Homo sapiens: one gene and its partners. The protein of the gene in region 2 interacts with the protein of the main gene of each other region in a pairwise test. Each region holds a gene or a part of one and is shown on either strand. Other genes may lie near its edges.

Region 1 (4,624 bases), on a different chromosome or scaffold from region 2:
TGCTTTCTGGGTTCAAGCAATTCTCATGCCTCAGCCTCCTGAGTAACTGGGACTACAGGTGTATGCCACCACACCTGGCTAATTTTTGTATTTTTAGTAGAGATGGAGTTTCACCATGTTGACCAAGCTGGTCTTTTTTTTTTTTTTTTTTGAGACTGAGTCTTGCTCTGTCGCCCAGGCTAGAGTGCAGTGGCGAGATCTTGGCTCACTGCAAGCTCCGCCTCCTGGGTTCACGCCATTCTCCTGCCTCAGCCTCCCGAGTAGCTGGAACTACAGGCTCCCGCCACCATGCCCTGCTAATTTTTTGTATTTTTAGTAGAGACGGGGTTTCACCATATTAGCCAGGATGGTCTCAATCTCCTGACCTTGTGATCCAGCTGCCTCAGCCTCCCAAAGTGCTGGGATTACAGGCGTGAGCCACCGCACCTGGCCCCCAAGCTGGTCTTGAACTCCTGGCCTCAAGTGATCTGCCCACCTTCGCCTCCCAACATGCTGAGATTACAGGCGTGAGCCACCACACCCAGCCGTCATATATTTTGTTTTGTTTTACTTGTTTCTTTTTGAGATGGAGTCTTGCTCTCTCACCCAGGCTGGAGTGCAGTGGTATGATCTCGGCTCACTGCAACCTCTACCTCCCAGATTCAAGCAATTCTTCTGCCTCAGCCACCCAAGTATCCGGGACTACAGGCATGAAACACGTCGCCAGGCCTCAAATAATGTTGTACAAACAAGAAAAGATATTTTGACATAGGTTTTCAGATTATTTTGAATGTACATGAACATATACGAGACATTGTTAGTGGTTTGTGTGCTTCCCTCCCTCTCCGCCATATCAATTTATCTATTCATTCATTCATTGAACATTCAAGCAGTCTATTGTCTGCCCAGACCCTGTGCTAAATGTGGCATAAGAAGTCAAAACAAATAAAAGTTTACAACATGGCTGGGGAGACAGGATGAACAGCACTTTTGAAAACTTTGTACGGTTAGGCAAAAATTAGAGTCCAGAGCCAAGAAAGAGGTAAGGGTAAATAGGCAGTAAATCAGACCTCATATAGATTATGATCTGGCTTTGAATCATTTGGATATTGTAGAAATTTCAAGCCCTGAAATTGCCATAATGTACTGTAGGACTTGTGCCAAGGCATGTGGCAAAAGCAAATGAAAATACTCTTTGGAAGAGAATAATATCTGAGGCCTCCAATTTTTTTTTTTTTTTTGAGACAGTTTTGCTTTTTCACCCAGACTGGAACGAAGTGGCATGATCTTGGCTCACTGCAACCTCTGCCCCCTGGGTTCAAGTGATTCTCCTGCCTCAGCCTCCCGAGTAACTGTGATTACAGGCATGTGCCACCATGCCGAGCTAATTTTTGTATTTTTAGTAGAGAAGGGTTTCGCCATGTTGGCCAGGCTGGTCTCAAACTCCTGACCTGAGGTGATCCACCCGCCTCAGCCTCCCAAAGTGCTAGGATTACAAGCATGAGCCACCGTGCCTGGCCTCCAATTATTTTTATAAATAATTTTTCAAGTACAACATCCATCACACAAGGATAATTTGAAACATTCCATAGGCCAGGCATGGTGTCTCAGGCCTATAACCCCAGCACTTTGGGAGACCGAGGCAGGCTGATCACTTGAGGCCAGGAGTTTGAGACTAGCCTGGACAACATGGTGTAACCCTGTCTCTACTAAAAATACAAAAATTAGCCAGGAGCGGTGGCATGCACCTGTAATCCCAGCTGGTCAGGAGGCTGAGTCAGAAGAATCACTTGAACACAGAAGTCAGAGGTTGCAGTGAGCCGAGATCACACCACTGCACTCCAGCCTGGGGTGACAGAGAGAGACTCTGTCTCAAAAAAATAAAAAAAGAAGATCTGGGCACAGTGGCCCACACCTGTAATCCCAGCAATTTGGGAGGCTGGGGCAGGTAGATCACCTGAGGTCAGGAGTTCGAGACTAGCCTGGCCAACATGGTAAAACCTCATCTTTACTAAAAATACAAAAATTAGCTGGGCGTGGTTGCAGGCGCCTGTAATCCCAGCTATTCAGGAGGCTGAGACAGGAGAATCGCTTGAACCCAGGAAGCAGAGGTTGCAGTAAGCAGAGATCTTGCCACTGCACTCCAGCCTGGGCGATAGAACAAGACTCTGTCTCAAAGAAAAAAAAAAAAAAAAACGGCCAGGCACGGTGGCTCACGCCTGTAATCCCAGCACTTTGGGAGACCGAGGCAGGCAGATCACGAGGTCAGGAGTTTGAGACTAGCCTGGCCAATATGGTGAAACCCCGTCTCTACTAAAAATACAAAAATTAGCCAGGTGTGGTGGTGGTCGCCTGTAATCCCAGCTACTCGGGAGACAGAGAGGAGAATCGCTTGAACGCAGGAGGTGGAGGTTGCAGTGAGCTGAGATCGAGCCACTGCACTCCAGCCTGGCGACAGAGCAAGACTCCATCTCAAAAAAAAGAAAAAAAAAGCAAAAACCAGTAACAGCAAAAAAACAAGCTTAAGTGTTGAACATTATAAAGTTTGACAGCATATTTGAAAGAGAAGCAAGATCAATTCTAGATTTGAAAAATACAATAATTGAATTTAGATGTTAATATATGGCTTTAATAGCAGGATAGACATAGTTGAAGAAGATTAGTCAAGTGGGAGGGCCAGGTGTGGTGGCTCACGCCTGTAATCCCAGAACTTTGGGAGGCCGAGGTGGGTGGATCACGAGGTCAGGAGTTCAAGACCAGCCTGGCCAACATGGTGAAACCCCCGTCTCTACTAAAAATACAAAAATTAGCTGGGTGTGGTGGCACGCACCTGGAGTCCCAGTTACTCGGGAAGCTGAGGCAGGAGAATCGCTTGAACCTGGGAGGCGGAGGTTGCAGTGAGCCAAGACCGTGCCATTGCACTCCAGCCTGGGCGCCATTGCACTCCAGCCTGGGCAACAGAGTGAGACTCTGTCTCAAAAACAAAAAGAAGATTAGTGAACTGGAATAGAAGGACAGAAGAAACTGTTTAAAATCAAGTACAAAGAGAAAAATAGATGGAAAATGTTGAAAAGAAGGTAAGAAATGCAGAGGATACAGTATGAAGGACTAATGTTTAATTGGTTGACATTTCTTAGATGGCAAATATTAATATCATTTTTCCATTTTTCAAATTCACTATTTTATTTGCCTGAATTTTTTTTCTTATATTTTTAAAATTAAAATTCTTCAGGATCAAATTTCAACATCAATGTTTGCCTGAAGTTTGCTCCGGAATTTGTTTTATTAAAGTTATTGTTAGCCAGACGTGGTGGCTCACACCTGTAATCCCAGCACTTTGGGAGGCCGAGACGGGCAGATCACGAGGTCAGGAGATCCAGACCATCCTGGCTAACACAGTGAAACCCCATCTCTACTAAAAATACAAAAAAATTAGCCGGGCGTGGTGGCAGGTGCCTGTAGTCCCAGCTACTTGGGAGGCAGGAGAATGGTGTGAACCCGGGAGGCTGAGCTTGCAGTGAGCTGAGATTGTGCCACTGCACTCCAGCCTGGGCAACAGAGCAAGACTCCGTCTCAAAATAAATAAATAAATAAATAAAAATAAAAAATAAAGTTATTGTTGGCCACACATGGTGGCTCACGCCTATAATCCCAACACTTTGAGAGGCCGAGGCAGGTGGATCATTTGAGGTCAGTAGTTCAAGATCAGCCTGACTAACATGGTGAAACCTCGTCTCTTCTAAAAATACAAAAATTAGCCAGGCGTGGCGGTACATGCCTATCCTCCCAGCTACTTGGGAGGCTGAGGCAGGAGAATCACTTGACCCCGGGAGGCGGAGGCTGCAGGGAGCTGAGATCGTGCCATTACACTCCAGCTTGGGTGACAAAAGGAGACAGTCCCCCCAAAAAAAATAAAAATAAAAGTCATTTTTGAGTGTTCCAGATTAAGGAGATTTTCCTGTGTTTTTTGTTTTTTGGGTTTTTTTTTACCCAGAAGTTTTTTTTTTTTTCCTGTCTTTGAACTTTCAGGGCAATAAAAAGACTCTTTATCAGTTAAGAAAGGAAACAGATTAGCTGACCACCTTGCCTGTTAGAACATACCTGTTCTTCCCTGGTGTTGATCACCACCAGATCAGCCCCCATCACAGAACAGTTCTTTTGACTCTTAGTCCAAGATTGCATCCCAGTAGAAATAAAGTAGCAACTAGACTGAAATGAAGTCCAAGGGGTTGGGCAGCAGCTCCAATCTTCCCAAATGAGTATAGAAGAAGAAAAAATATTAACAGAGAATTCTCCTCACATAAAGTTATAAGCTTAGCTTGCTAAGGTTTAATTAGTTTTCACCTATGGATCTCCACGGATTTTCCAAAGCTGAACTCATTTACTGGTGTATTTACTAATCCCTAGATCATTTCACTCTATACAGGGACCAGCAAACTTCCTGCAAAAGGCCAGATAGTAAATATCTCAGGCTTTTTGGGCCATACGGTTTCTGTTGCAACTGCTTAACTCTGCTACTGCAGTACGAAAGCAACCACTGGCAATATGTTACCAAAGAAAAAAAAAAGAACATGAGTATGGCAATAAAATGCCATTTACAAAACTAGGCAGCTTGTTGAGTTTGGCCCATGCCTTAGTTTTCCAG
Region 2 (4,624 bases):
TTGGATGTGGAGAAATTGGAACCCTTGGTATGCCACTGGCGGGAATGTGAAATGGTTCAGCCACTGTGGAAAACAGTTTGGTGTTCCCTCAAAAAATTACCCTCTGACCCAGCAATTCCACTCCTGGGTATATAACCAAAGGATTCCAAGCAGGGACTTTAGTATTGGCACATGCATGTTCATAGCAGCAGTCTTCACAATAACACACAGCCCAGTGGCCATCAGCAATGAACTGAATAACAAAGTGCGACATATCCAAACAATGGATACTACCTGACCATAGAAAGGAATGAAGTACTGATACGTGCTACAAAGTTGATAAACCTTGAAAACTCTATGCTAAGCAAAAGACACAAGGCACAAAATGTCATATAGTGTATGATTCCGTTTATATAAAATACTGGAATAGATAAATCCATAGAGACAGAACACAAACCCTGGTGGTTTGCCAGGGACCAAGGGGAGCAATTGTTTAATCGCTATGTGGTTTCTTTTTGGGGGTAATGAAAATGCTTTGGAATTAGATTGAGTTGGTGGGTGCACAACACCATGAATGTACTAAATGCCACTGAACTGTCAACTTAAAATGATTGGTTTGATGATATGTGAATTTCACCTCAAGTTTAAAAAACAAAAAATAGAAATATTTCAAATGCCACAGAAGAACATATACAATACTTTAACAGACACCTACATAATTATTGCCCAACTTTGTCAAATCTTAATATTTTGCCTTGTTTGCTGTTATGTATTAAGGAAATGAAGCTTTCAGATGGCATCTAAGCCTCCTAGACATCCTTCTGTTATCTTATTCTCTCTCTCCCTCCGTCCTCAGGGCCACCTGTAGGCTGAATGTGGTGTTCACTTCCAAGCACAGGTTAGACTTTTACTGCACACATATGAACTACACATGGCATTGTTTTACATGTTTTCGCACTTTATGAAAATGCCAGCATACAGTACGTATCCTTCTGCAACATGCTTTCCAGGCAACATTATGTTCTGAGATTTATACATGTTGACTTTGTTTACCCAGTCTTCTGTTAATAGACACTTTGGATAGTTCCAATTTGCTGCCTTTAGCTATTGCAGACAGCATTGCTAAGAACATTCTCATATTTGCCTCTGTAGTTACCTGTTGGAAATGTCTCCCAGAGACACTTGGAGGATGTGACTTGTTGGGTCACAGGGGATATGCACATTGTCATTTTCCCAGGTGTTATCACATTGCCGTCCAAAAGAGTAATTCCAATTTACACACCCCAGGAGCAGATTTACTGGGAAGCTGATGTTTAATTAAGTTCAAGACCCCTACTTACTCAAGCCCCTTCCAAGACTCTGCCTAATTTTGTATTCTCTTATAAAGATGGTCCTCCTGATTGTTTAAGCTTCAGGCTAAACCTGGACCTTCCCCGGCCCCTACCAGCAGCACATGAAAGTCGCCATTGTTCCTCATCACTTGGTAGCGTCAGACTTTATAATTTTCTGCTAGTCCAATGGGTGTGAAATGCTTGATTATTTTTTAAATCTGTAGTCCACTGAGTTGTTGATGACTCATAGTTCAGATTCCCATGCCTGACCTCCCAACAGCCTGGGAGGCGCAGATGTCCAAGCTGATCCGGGTGGAGCGCCACTTCCATGGTGAGGGGACTGCCCACTGGAGCAAGTGAGGGTGGCAGCTCAGGGTGGGGCATAGCAACCTCTCCTTGGCCCAGCACCCCTATCCCAGACCTCCTGACCTCTGAAAGCTGCAGAGTCCTCACAGGAAGAGGAAGGCAGGCCCAACTAGGAAGTGAGACTGCCTTTCCAAATACCTCCAGAGCCACAGAGGCTGTGCCCCTATTGCAGGTGGTGTGGTCATCAGTGCAGCCCCATATAGGCCAAGGGTGAAATAGCCAATGCTCTCCCCTCCTCCAACAAAACCCAGGGCTTTGCTTCTCGTCTGCTCCCCTGCAAAAGTCCCACCCAGTGAGGAACTTTTCCTTTTGGAGCCACTCTCTGTCTCTGTCTCCGTCTCCATTCTAAGCCAGGGACTTCCTTGACACTGGGCCACCATTCAGGGAATGAAAGGTTCACAGGGAAGGCTTTCTGTCTCAGCTGGGGCCCCCAGATGCGAGGTCTCCCACAGAGTGCCAGGAGAGACCCCCTACCCATTCAGGACTTGTGAAGGAAGTGCCTGAAGAGGGTTGTGAGATCATCTACTCAGCCCCCTCCTCCCCAGGCCACAAAGGAGGCAGGGTTGTGAGTGAGGGTGTGAGGAATGCCGCCCAGCCCTCCAGGGGCATGCCCTTCCTCCTCTGTGCCTCAGAAACACGAACAGAAGTGCAGTCACATCACGGGTTGGGGTTGGGGTGGGGAGACACCCGCAATCAGTTTGCAGTTTTGACAGTTACAGTGAACTGGACAGAGTAATGACTAAAATGACACCTTTTCTGTGACCCAAAGTGACTGGACTGTTATTAAGAGTGACCAGAGAGGTCTGGGGACTTCTGCTAGATTTCTACCTGGCTGGGGAATAGCCAGCCCGACAGAGCCGGGACTGGGCCATGGGCCAGCGAGGCAGTTTCGCATTAGGTGGTCCAAGCTGTGGCTGCACTGAGAAGGTGGCATGGGAACTCCTAGGAGACCAGAGACGTAGAATGACAGAAACCTCACTTTCAGAGCTGGCAGGGAACTGAGGCTCAGACAGGGAGCAACTTGCCTGGGTCACCGGGTCTCCAGGGTCCAGTGAGCACTTCTGGCAGTGAGCAGATCATGCCCAGGCTTCTCCTTTCACCTAATCAGCCACACGAGATTTTGCTTGCACTAGAAGGCACACTGGGATCCTGAGTAGGCAGCCCTGCCCACCTGGCAGCTCTGGGCAAGGCTTGGTCCCTTCTCTCCCCCAACAGGAATGAAGGGACAGCTCAGGACCACTGGGAAGCTCACACCTCCTCTGGGTCTCCTTGTCAAAAACACACCCTGCAGGTTCTGAGTCACGAGGTCCAGGGCAGGTTGAAGAACCCGCATTGCACTGCACACCCTCCACTGACTGGCTGAGACTTGGAGCGGACATCTCGAGGCCAGGCCACCCTCTTGATATTTTTATGGGGGATAGAATAGTGGGAACAGTTCTCAGGGAGAGGCTGGGGCAAGCAGCCAGGTGCTCTGAGGTTCTCACAAGTCAGACCAGGGACCTCCTCTGTTCTGGAGAAAGTTCCCTGCTGTGCTAGCTAGGAGCCTCTCCTACAGGCACCAGGGAGTGGGGCAGGCCCCGCTTGGCCAGAATGGGATGGTGGCTGAGTTGGCCTTCTCTGACTGTGTCCACTGGCTCCTGGCTCTGTCCCTTCTCTGTAGCTATTTAGAGAGGGCTACTGCCTGATCTTCCGTGTTTTCTCCTCTCTTCCTCTCTAAAGGGAGGAGAAGTGTTCTAGACAGAGATTTCACAGGGGTTTGGTGGAGAAGTGACTTTTCTGGTTTTTCAAGACCAGAGGCTGGCTTTGGTGAGGACTCAGTAACTTTGAGCTGCTCCCTGGAAACTGCTAAGTGTGATGATGGGGCTCATCTCCACAGGATTGTCAGACATGTGTCATCACACCTGAGCTATATTTTAAAAGATTGCCTTTTAGCTTTTCATAAGTCACTCCCCCACCTCACAGGGATGGGGCAATGCCAGAACTGGTGCAAAGGCACCCTTTCTGTCCCAGTGCTTTCAGAAGTGAGTAGGAAGCCCCACGATGCTGCTGCCAGCAGCGCTCACACTCAGGTCGGCCAGGGACAAGGGCTGAATTTTGCACCTATACTCGCCACACCAGCAGGCGAGGGGCAGAGCATATTGTGCTGCCAGCACAGACTAGCTCTGCACAGCCTTAGCAGTGGCTTGGCTTTGTCCTGGGCCCAGACACATTCTCCAGAGAAGGGGCTGGGAGTAGGGACTGGACCACCTGGGACCTGCCTTGACACAGGACAGAGCCAGCCAGACTTGAACTAGAAGGGGCTGGGGGCTGACTTAAGCCACTCCAGGGCTTCCTCCTGGCCCCTCCAGTGTCAGTGCCGGACATGGTGCTTTGGACCAGCAGGCCTCAGGGACAGGTGCTGATAGGACACCCCAGAGGGTGTACCCTCCTGGTGTTGATGGGTGTGAGGACAGTGGGGGACTGTGCCCCTTGTCCTTGAAGCAGGAACGTTCTGGGGTGTGTGGCCAGCTCCTTCTCACAGCTTTCAGATTGTTCCCAAGGGCATGGAGCATGGAGCAGGTCCCTCGTGGTCTCTCATCAATTTGGAAGGCTCCAAATTGCCTTTGACACCCTGGTGAAAGGTTTGATACCCAGTGAGCTCCTAGCTGGGCATGAGCAGTGTAGCCATTTCCCTTCTTGGGGTCATGAACGTGCCACACTCTGCTTCTCTGCAGCACTTCTCCCCAGGCTCTCTGCCGCTGCTACCTCATTCACAGCTAGTGTTCTATGCCAGGATTGGGTGAATCATTTTAATGTACCCGGGCCCTGGGTCCTGCAAAACATATGTAGGAAATCAAAGGAAAGCCTGTCACCAGCCACAGCACCTCCGCAGCGGGAAGAGAAGGTGCAGGGTCGCACAGCCAGCCTCACTGACCTGCAGTTCCTGGCCACAGCCTCCAGTCCCTGTG
Region 3 (4,624 bases), on a different chromosome or scaffold from region 2:
CGTGAACCCAGGAGGCGGAGATTACAGTGAGCCAAGATTGCGTCACTGCACTCCAGGGTGGGGGACAGAGCGAGACTTTGTCTCAAAAAAAAAAAAAAAAAGTTGATTAACTCATATGTTGTATGTTATATGTATTGTACACTGCATTCTTACAATAAAGTAATCTAGGGAGAAGAAAATGCTATTATGAAAATCATAAAGAGGAGGAAGTAAGTTCATTAACTGGAAATGGATCATCATAAAGGTCTTCATCCTCATGGTGTTCACCTTGAGTAGGTGGAGGAGGAGGAAGAGGAGGTGTTGGTCTTGCTGTCTCAGGAATGGCAGAGGGAGAAGGAAATCCACATATAAGTGGACCCACACAGTTCAAACCCATGTTTTTCAAGGCTCAATTATAGCTGGAAATAATAGACCCTGTTACAGTCCACACTCTTGCTCATCAATATTCATTTCCCTCTCTTCAGCTGCAAAATATACTCCTCCCCTCCCCAGGGGAGACTTCCCAACAGTCCCATCCAGTTATAACACCAGACTCAAGCTCTAGAATCTCATGATGCTCATCAAATCTGGATGTGGCTCTTCTTGGTATGGAAACATAAAAACTAAAAAGTCAAATTACCCCTCACCCTTGCCCGACACAAACACACACTTGACATATGGTGGTGGACCAGGGTCAGGCCAACCACCAAAAACATTCCCCTCTGGAAAGCAAAACATGGGATACCCATAGCGGTCAGAGGCTCAGAGCAGTTCTGAAACCCTGTTGGACAAAAACCTTGGGGTGAGGAATTTTCCCTCAATTAGCTGCTTCTGCTTCCTAGAAGTGACCCTGGATGACATTGTTCTCCAAGATTCCCAGGAAAGCTGTCCTTTTCCACTATTCTTGTACTTACTCTATGAGGGCATTGTGTAATACACCCTTCCTGGGACCCGTGTAGCTTATCCTCTTAATTGCTTGGGCCCGTAGGTTGGGAAGTCCAAAGATCTTTTTTTTTTTTTTTTTTTGCAACAGAGTCTCGCTCTGTCACCCAGGCTGGAGTGCAGTGACACAATGTCGGCTCACTGCAAGCTCCGCCTCCCGTGTTCACACCATTCTCCTGCCTCAGCCTCCTGAGTAGCTGGGACTACAGGCGCCCGCCACCATGCCCGGCTAATTTTTTTGTATTTTTTAGTAGAGACGGGGTTTCACCATGTTAGCCAGGATGGTCTCAATCTCCTGACCTTGTGATCCGCCAGCCTCGGCCTCCCAAAGTGCTAGGATGACAGGCGTGAGCCACCGCGCCCGGCCCCAAAGATCTTTTAAAGTTTGGAACAGTTATAGTGTCTTTTAATCCAAGATTGTTGGCTCTTGGCCAGTATAGCTCTCAAGGACTTAGTTATGTTTTTATCTGGCTCCAATCAGTTATGCTAGTAAACACATCCACAATTATTTTTGAGACATACCTCTCTCTAAACTTAATAACAGGCTTCCTAGGAGAGTCACTTAACACATTCAGAGATTTTTTTAAAGAGGCATTGATTTGTTTCAATAGGGCTGTATTATTACTTAAAGCATTTCTTTATTTTATCTCTTACTAGTTGGAGATGAGAAACAATTGCTCTTGGTGCAGTGCCTGTAATCTCAGCACTTTGGGAGGCTGAAGCCAGAGTATTGCTTGAGGCCAGGAGTTCGAAACCAGCCTGGCCAACATGGTGAAACCCTGTCTCCACTAAAAATACAAAAATTAGCCAGGTGTGGTGCACATGCCTATAATCCCAGCTTCTTGGGAGTCTGAGGCAGGCAACATAGCCAGACCCTGTCTCTACTAAAAATACAAAAATTAGCTAGGTGTGGTGGTGTGTGCCTGTAATCCCAGCTTCTTGGGAGGGTGAGACAGAAGGATCACTTGAACTCGGGAGGTGGAGGTTGCAGTGAGCCAAGATTGCGCCACTGTACTCCAGCCTGGGTGACAGAGCAAGACTCCATCTCAAATAATAATAATAATAATAATAATAATAATAATAATGATGATGATGATAAATAAAATAGCTGGACATGGTGGTGCATGTCTGTCATCCTAACTACTTAGGAGGATGAGGCAGGAGGATCACTTGAGCCCAGATGTTTGAAGTTGCAGTGAGCTGTGATCACACCACAGCATATCAGCCTGGACCACCGAGCAAGACCTTGTCTCTAAAAAAATAGAACTAGAAATAGAAATGGGGGCTTTGAGAAATGTGTGGATAGGAAGATAACAAGATCATTACGAGAAAAAAAAGAAACAATTGCTTCTTTCAATGCTGCAACGCCAGGAATTTCTGAGTGGTTTTTATTTTTGGCTTGCAAATCAACCAGTTCTTTCCTGAGCTCATCTCTTTCTTGTAGTGCTCTGTTAGATGCAGCTAATTTCAATTGTGAATCACGGCATTCTGTTTCACAGACTTTTTACCTAAAACCACTGGACTCGGATTCAATATCTGCCTGTCCTCCAAGGTATCACAGGCAACAGTTTTACCAAATGTTTTGCTATCGTATTACAGGGATCTGTGTCTTTCCAGCCTCCAGTCACAGTTTTCTCATTTTTCACTGCCTGGCTCCGGAACCAGTACATTGTCTTTTAGAATTTTGGTTATGGTAGCCTCTTAGTTTTATGTACCAATTTCTCTATTTTTGACATAGACCAACAATGGTCTAAGTTATGCTGCCGTAGCAAACAAGCCCCAAATCTCAATGGTTCATAACAACACAGGGTATTCCTGACGTGAGCTGTCCATTGTGATTCAGCTGTAGGTGTTCCCCACTTTATCCTCATTCTGAGACCCAGCCCGAAGGAACAGCCTCTATCTGGGGCATGTAATTCTCATAGCAGAGGGAAAGAACAAATGTTAGAACCACACAATGATTCATAAAGCTGTGAATTAGATGTGGTAGATGTGACTTCTACTCACATTTTATTGGCCAAGAAAGTGACACTACTGGCCAGGCGCAGTGGCTCACACCTGTAATCCCAGCACTTTGGGAGGCCGAGGCGGGTGGATCACCTGAGGTCAGGAGTTCGAGACCAGCTTGACCAACATGGCGAAACCCCGTCTCTACTAAAAATACAAAAATTAGCTGGGCGTGGTGGTGCACACCTGTAATCCCAGCTACTCGGGAGGCTGAGGAAGGAGAATTGCTTGAACCCGGGAGGTGGAGTTTGCAGTCAGCCGAGATCGCGCCACTGCACTCCAGCCTGCGAGATGGAAGCAAGACTCCATTTCGGAAAAAAAAAAAAAAAAAGAAAAAAGAAAGCGACACTATCAAACCTAATATAAATGGAGTGGAAAAGTACAGTCCTCTCTCGGGGAGGGGCAGGATGTAATCAGGAACTCTGCACCTCTCCTTCAGCAGCTTTTCTTCATGAACATGACTTTGAACTTGTGTTTTTATCTTGTTAGAACAAGATTCATGGCCAGGCACAGTGGCTTACACCTGTAATCCCAGCACTTTCAGGAGGCCAAGGCAGGAGTACTTGAGGCCAGGAGTTTGAGACCAGCCTGGGAAACATAGCAAGACCTTGTCCCTACAAAAAATTGTAAATGTTAGACAGGCGCAGTGGCTCATGTCTGTAATCCCAGCTACTTGGGAGGCTGAGGCAGGAGGATGGCTTCAGCCCAGGAGTTCAAGGCTGCAGGGAGCTATGATCACACCACTGGACTCCAGCCTGGATGATAGGGCAAGACCCTGTCTCTAAATTTTTTTTTAAACGATACATAATTAGGCCGGGCGTGGTGGCTCAGGCCTGTAATCCTAGCACTTTGGGAGGCCGAGGCGGGCGGATCACTTGAGGTCAGGAGTTCAAAACCAGCATGGCCAACACGGTGAAACCCCGTCTCTACTAAGCATACAAAAAAATTAGCCGGGCGTGGTGGCGGGCACCTGTAATTCCAGCTACTACGGAGGCTGAGGCAGGAGAATCGCTTGAACTCGGGAGGCGAGGTTGCAGTGAGCCGAGATCTCGCCGCTGCACTCCAGCCTGGGCGAAAGAGCAAGATTCTATCTCAAAAAAAAAAAAAAAAAGATACATGCTTAAACCAATATGGGAATTGCCAGAGTGTTGGTAAATTATAAAAATTTTAGAGACGTATGCATTATATAAAGGGTTTCACCATTCTAAAGTACACAAAGTATGCAGGGTTGACAGCAGATGGCTGGATGAATAGGAAACCAGACTGGCGGGTGGCATTTTTTTTCTCCAAGAAGCTAAAGCGAAGGGAATATGTTCCACTCTCTATCATTCCAATAAGTCCCTGCAAGTTCATGAGTATACTTGGAGCTGAACAGGATGGAAAACTGTTCACCTGATATCCTGAAACGCTGAGACAAGTTTCTGCAGAGCAGCTGTGGGTCTGGCCTGTCATGGCCCGAGCCAACTTCCCATCTCCACATGCTTCTGACCATCTCACTACTCTTTATCTCCACAGTTTGACATGCAAAGGATAACTCTGGAAGAGTTGAAGCACATTCTCTATCATGCCTTCCGAGACCACCTAACGATGAAGGACATTGAGAACATCATTATCAATGAGGAAGAGAGCCTGAATGAGACCTCGGGGAACTGCCAAACAGAGTTTGAAGGAGGTAGGTGCCCCTGCTGCCATCCCC
Region 4 (5,061 bases), on a different chromosome or scaffold from region 2:
TACACTCCTAAGTGGTGGGGCAGAGCCTCACACCAGGTCCTTGTCCTCAAGACGGTTCTCTTTTCTCTTTGTTTTAATGATTAACATTTGCTACTAATGGGGCAGGTGGAGCCGCCTGCACAGCACACTTCTGTAGACCACGGAATATGCTGTTTGACCTTGGCACTGTCTGCCACCTCCTCACCATCAGACCCTCATCAAACACCCTCCTACCTGTCACTTGACCTGGGGGTGGAAGTGACAAAGAGGAACCTAGGAGGCAGGGAGAAGGGAAATGGCCTGGCTCCCAAAAAAGGAAGTTAATTATTTGGCCAAAGAAGCTCTCCCTAATCCCCAAATGCTTTCTGCTGCTGGCCTCCAGAGAAGTTCCTGATAAGGGTCACTCTAGCCTTGGCTAGAACCATGGAAGTGGTTCCCAAACCTTGCCCAAAGCTCACTGATGGTACTCATTCCTCTCAGAAAGCGGGACTGATTCACACCTGGAAGATAATCATCAGGGAGCACCATCTGCGGTCCAAGACCCCAAAGGAGAAAATGGTGCTCCGAAGACATGAGATCAACACAGAGCTGGAGTCCCCCACCCACAGCCATCCAGCTGCCAAGCAGTTCAGGACAAGGCCCCCAAATCATCATGCGAATTACTGTGAAGCTACATTTCTCCAGGGCTTTACCATGTACAGAGCCAGGATTTGAACTCGGGTGGACTGATTCTATTCTCAGATTCCATCCTGCCTCCCAGCCATCCTACTGCTCACCGAGCCTTGCAGAGCAGGCTGGCACCTGGCATGCTTGGCAGTGGGTACATCCTTCCTCATTCCACAACTGAGGAAGCAGCAGCTCCGTGAAATTAGGCCGTTTGCAATGGCCACATACTCCTGAGAGGTAGAATGGGTACTCTACCAGTGCTGACCAACCAGACTTGAGCTCATCATTCAACACATGGCACCTGAACTGAGAAAAGGGGTCATGGGATGGAAAGAGCTCTGGACCCCTGACAATTCTGTGGCCCTAGCCTACAGCTCCCCACAAGGCTCAGCTCCTATATAGGGACTCCATGGTCTAGTGGGAAAGGCCCTGGGCCAGAAGGCCATGGCCAGGTTTAGGTCAGGACTCTGTAGCACTAGTTATGTGACCTTAGGAAGTCACTTTGTCCCTGTGACTTGGTTTCCGCATCTGCAAAACAGAGATAACATCTAACCTCACGTGATTATTGTCATCTAGTGAGATAAGTGAATGTGGAATCACTTTGAAAAGACTACAACACTACACTGCAGGATAGCCTTGTCGCCTGTAAAGGAAACCTCTCCAAGGCTGTGACCACTACAGATTTTGCCTGAGGTTAAGTCCCTTACTTCTCTCCCACTCCCACCCCCAGCCTGCCTGGGTTCAGTGTTCTTAAATTGAAACTGAAGCTAGAATGAACCTGAGGAAAGAAATATTAGTCTATGTGTATAGATGTCCAAGCCCACTGGGCATGATTTCCTAACCCCACCTCCAGCGTGCGCGCGCACACACACACACACACACACACATATACACACACACACACAGACACACACAATTATTTACTTCCTTCCCACCTAAAATGATTTCTCAAAATGAAATTACTTCCTATGGACACCTTGGACTCAGGCCAAAAAAAATTCCAATTGCTGGTAGTTTCTAAAGTGCTTGTTATGTGGGAAAGTTGACAAAAAACAATAGCTATAATATAGTGATCTTTCTTTCCACCAAGCATTCCATACGTGTTATCTCATTTGAGGTACCTTCAAAACAACTCTAGGAGTTATTTCCAGGTGAGGGGTCATTTAGAGGACATTGTCGATTGGCCAACCCAGCGTCTTGTTTTTCCTTCCCTAAAGAATCCCCATTGGGTTCATAGATCTGGTTCCACCCTTCACCACTTGGTCCAGAAGCAGGGGTGGAAGTGATGCAAAATGGTTGAATTCTAGATATATTTTGAAGACATGACCAAAAGGATGTGTGAGGGACTGGCTGTTGGTGTGAAAGAGAGGCATTACGAATGAGATTGGGCATGGAGACGTGTTTGGTGAGACAGAAGGCTTCATGCAAATACAAGATCATGCTTTTTATTATTAAGGAATGTTAACTTCCTCTTTTAGTATGGCCCCTCTGCCATCACATATGGAGACCATCCTTTGCTGGGGAGAATCTCCCCTTCTTTGCCAGGATCCTTTTTTTGCAATTTCTCCTAGTTATTAGTTTATGCAAACTCAGGGGTACAAAATGATTTTAAGGGAAGCATGCTGCCAAAATAACCATGACGTTCCTTCCCAAGCTACAAATAAGTCATTGATTAGCCCATTGGTGTACCTTACCTCAATAAACAAGGGCCAGTTGTATTCTGCCCTGGATCTTGTATAATGAACTTCTTCTTCTCCATAGCTCACAGCAGGCAGTGAAGGCTGAGGATCTTCATGCTTCTTCCCTGGCTCCCCTAGAATGGATGTGTGTGGCTGGAAAGAAATGGAGGTTGCGCTGGTCAATTTTGATAATTCAGATGAAATCCAAGAAGAGCCAGGCTATGCCACAGACTTCGACTCAACCAGCCCAAAAGGCCGGCCTGGGGGCAGCTCCTTCTCCAACGGGAAGATCCTCATCAGCGAAAGCACCAACCATGAGACGGCCTTCTCCAAGCTTCCGGGAGACTATGCTGACCCCCCAGGGCCTGAGCCAGTGGTCCTAAATGAAGGAAACCAGCGGGTGATCATCAACATTGCTGGGCTGAGATTTGAGACCCAGCTCAGAACCCTTAGTCAGTTCCCAGAGACTCTCCTGGGAGACCGGGAAAAAAGGATGCAGTTCTTTGACTCCATGAGAAATGAGTATTTCTTTGATCGGAACCGGCCCAGTTTTGATGGAATCCTATATTATTACCAATCTGGTGGGAAAATTCGGCGCCCAGCCAATGTTCCCATTGATATCTTTGCTGATGAAATCTCCTTCTATGAGCTGGGTAGTGAGGCCATGGACCAGTTCCGGGAGGATGAAGGCTTCATCAAAGACCCTGAAACACTGCTACCCACCAATGACATCCACCGTCAGTTCTGGCTCCTCTTTGAGTACCCTGAAAGTTCCAGCGCTGCCCGTGCTGTGGCCGTGGTCTCGGTGTTGGTTGTGGTCATCTCCATCACCATCTTCTGCCTGGAGACACTGCCAGAGTTCCGGGAGGATAGGGAGCTAAAGGTGGTCAGAGACCCCAATCTCAACATGAGCAAGACAGTCCTCTCCCAGACCATGTTCACCGACCCTTTCTTCATGGTGGAGTCTACCTGCATCGTGTGGTTCACCTTCGAGCTGGTGCTCCGGTTCGTGGTCTGCCCCAGCAAGACTGACTTCTTCAGGAACATCATGAACATCATTGACATCATCTCCATTATCCCCTACTTTGCAACTCTCATCACAGAGCTAGTCCAGGAGACAGAGCCGAGTGCCCAACAGAACATGTCCCTGGCCATCCTGAGGATCATCCGCCTGGTGAGGGTCTTCCGCATCTTCAAGCTCTCGCGCCACTCCAAGGGGCTGCAGATCCTCGGGCAAACACTGAAGGCGTCCATGCGGGAGTTGGGGTTGCTCATCTTCTTTCTCTTCATTGGAGTCATCCTCTTCTCCAGTGCAGTCTACTTTGCTGAGGTGGATGAGCCAGAGTCCCATTTCTCTAGCATTCCTGATGGCTTCTGGTGGGCAGTGGTCACCATGACAACTGTAGGCTATGGGGACATGTGCCCGACCACCCCAGGGGGGAAGATTGTGGGCACTCTGTGTGCCATTGCAGGGGTCCTCACCATTGCCCTCCCTGTGCCTGTCATTGTCTCCAACTTCAATTACTTCTACCACCGGGAGACTGAGAATGAAGAAAAGCAGAACATCCCAGGAGAAATTGAAAGAATCCTCAACAGTGTAGGCTCAAGAATGGGCAGCACAGACTCTCTTAATAAGACCAATGGTGGCTGTTCCACAGAGAAGTCTAGGAAATGATCAGTCCAGGGCTTCTTGGGTCCATCCTGTCTCTCTTCTCTCTTCTCTCTCTCTCTCTCTCGCTTTCTCCCCTCCTCTCTCTCTTCCTTCTGCCTTCCCTTCCTCCCTTCATTCCTTCCTCTTTCCCTCTCCCTTCTCTCATTTCATCTTTCCAAAGATCAAAATGTATCTTTTGTGATCAATAACTATCTTTGACTACAAGCTATTTTAATAAGCCCATACTTCTACTGTATTTTCTAAACTGTTTCTTTTCAATACATTATAGAAAGATTTGGATCTCTTTTCCTATGAAGGGATAGTTCAGGTCCCCAGACCAGAAATACTGGTATCACCCGGGAGGATGAAAATGCAGAATCTAGGCCTACTCTGACCTACTGAATCAGAATCTGCAGTTTAACAAGATCCCAAGTGATTCGTTTGCATATTAAAGATTTAAAAGCACTGGTTTTGGTCTTCCTACGAGGAAGCATATGAAAAGACCAAGGGTTGCTGTGAGCAAAGAGGAAGAGCTCAGAGTTATTCAATTACAATAATAATAATACCTTGTACTTGTGTAGCACTGCATAAATTTTCCAAAAACACTTTCACCTACATTATCTCACTGCATCTTAGAATAATCAGATTTGATTATTATTTGATTTGATTATTATTCCCACATTACAGGTGAACAAACCAGGGGAGAGCAACTTACCTAAGGTCACCCAGAAACAGTGATATAGTCAATGCTGTCAAATCTCCTACCTACTAGCCCAGTGCCCTTTCCACTAATGAAGAAGATGTGTCAGAATTGGGGGAAAGGTGAGAGGAGTTTGAGGGGACTTTCAGAGGGTCCAGGCAGCAAACCTCTGGGCAGAGACACCCTTCCCCGGATGCTTCAGGATCTCCTCACAGCCTGGGAAGGCAGCATCTCCCTGACCCCTTGCTCCTCAGCCCCTTTTCTGGATAGTGGACAAGCAGAAACATCCCTCGATGTTTTCACCTGGCTCATCTCCATGGAGTTACACAAAGACTGGGGATCCTGAGTGTGGGAACTGTGGGCCCTAGAGAACTGCTCCAGGAAAG

The links. Proteins that work in one complex are often made in the same cells at the same time.
Region 1: the proteins of MAL (region 2) and CLEC4C interact in binary tests that used the Homo sapiens proteins (3 or more experiments, as listed by UniProt).
Region 3: the proteins of MAL (region 2) and CALN1 interact in binary tests that used the Homo sapiens proteins (3 or more experiments, as listed by UniProt).
Region 4: the proteins of MAL (region 2) and KCNA10 interact in binary tests that used the Homo sapiens proteins (3 or more experiments, as listed by UniProt).

The regions. Positions count from the first base shown.
Region 1 is NC_000012.12:7,733,349-7,737,972, forward strand, and holds part of CLEC4C (C-type lectin domain family 4 member C), read right to left. Parts: intron 4,227-4,624; coding exon 4,081-4,226; intron 1-4,080. UniProt on the Homo sapiens protein: Lectin-type cell surface receptor which may play a role in antigen capturing by dendritic cells. Specifically recognizes non-sialylated galactose-terminated biantennary glycans containing the trisaccharide epitope Gal(beta1-3/4)GlcNAc(beta1-2)Man.
Region 2 is NC_000002.12:95,028,440-95,033,063, forward strand, and holds part of MAL (myelin and lymphocyte protein), read left to right. Parts: intron 1-4,624. UniProt on the Homo sapiens protein: May be involved in vesicular trafficking from the Golgi apparatus to the cell membrane. Plays a role in the maintenance of the myelin sheath, and in axon-glia and glia-glia interactions.
Region 3 is NC_000007.14:71,810,312-71,814,935, reverse strand, and holds part of CALN1 (calcium-binding protein 8), read left to right. Parts: intron 1-4,443; coding exon 4,444-4,600; intron 4,601-4,624. UniProt on the Homo sapiens protein: Negatively regulates Golgi-to-plasma membrane trafficking by interacting with PI4KB and inhibiting its activity. May play a role in the physiology of neurons and is potentially important in memory and learning.
Region 4 is NC_000001.11:110,516,190-110,521,250, reverse strand, and holds KCNA10 (potassium voltage-gated channel subfamily A member 10), read left to right. Parts: upstream 1-2,075; 5' UTR 2,076-2,463; coding exon 2,464-3,999; 3' UTR 4,000-4,034; downstream 4,035-5,061. UniProt on the Homo sapiens protein: Voltage-gated potassium ion channel that mediates K(+) permeability of excitable membranes.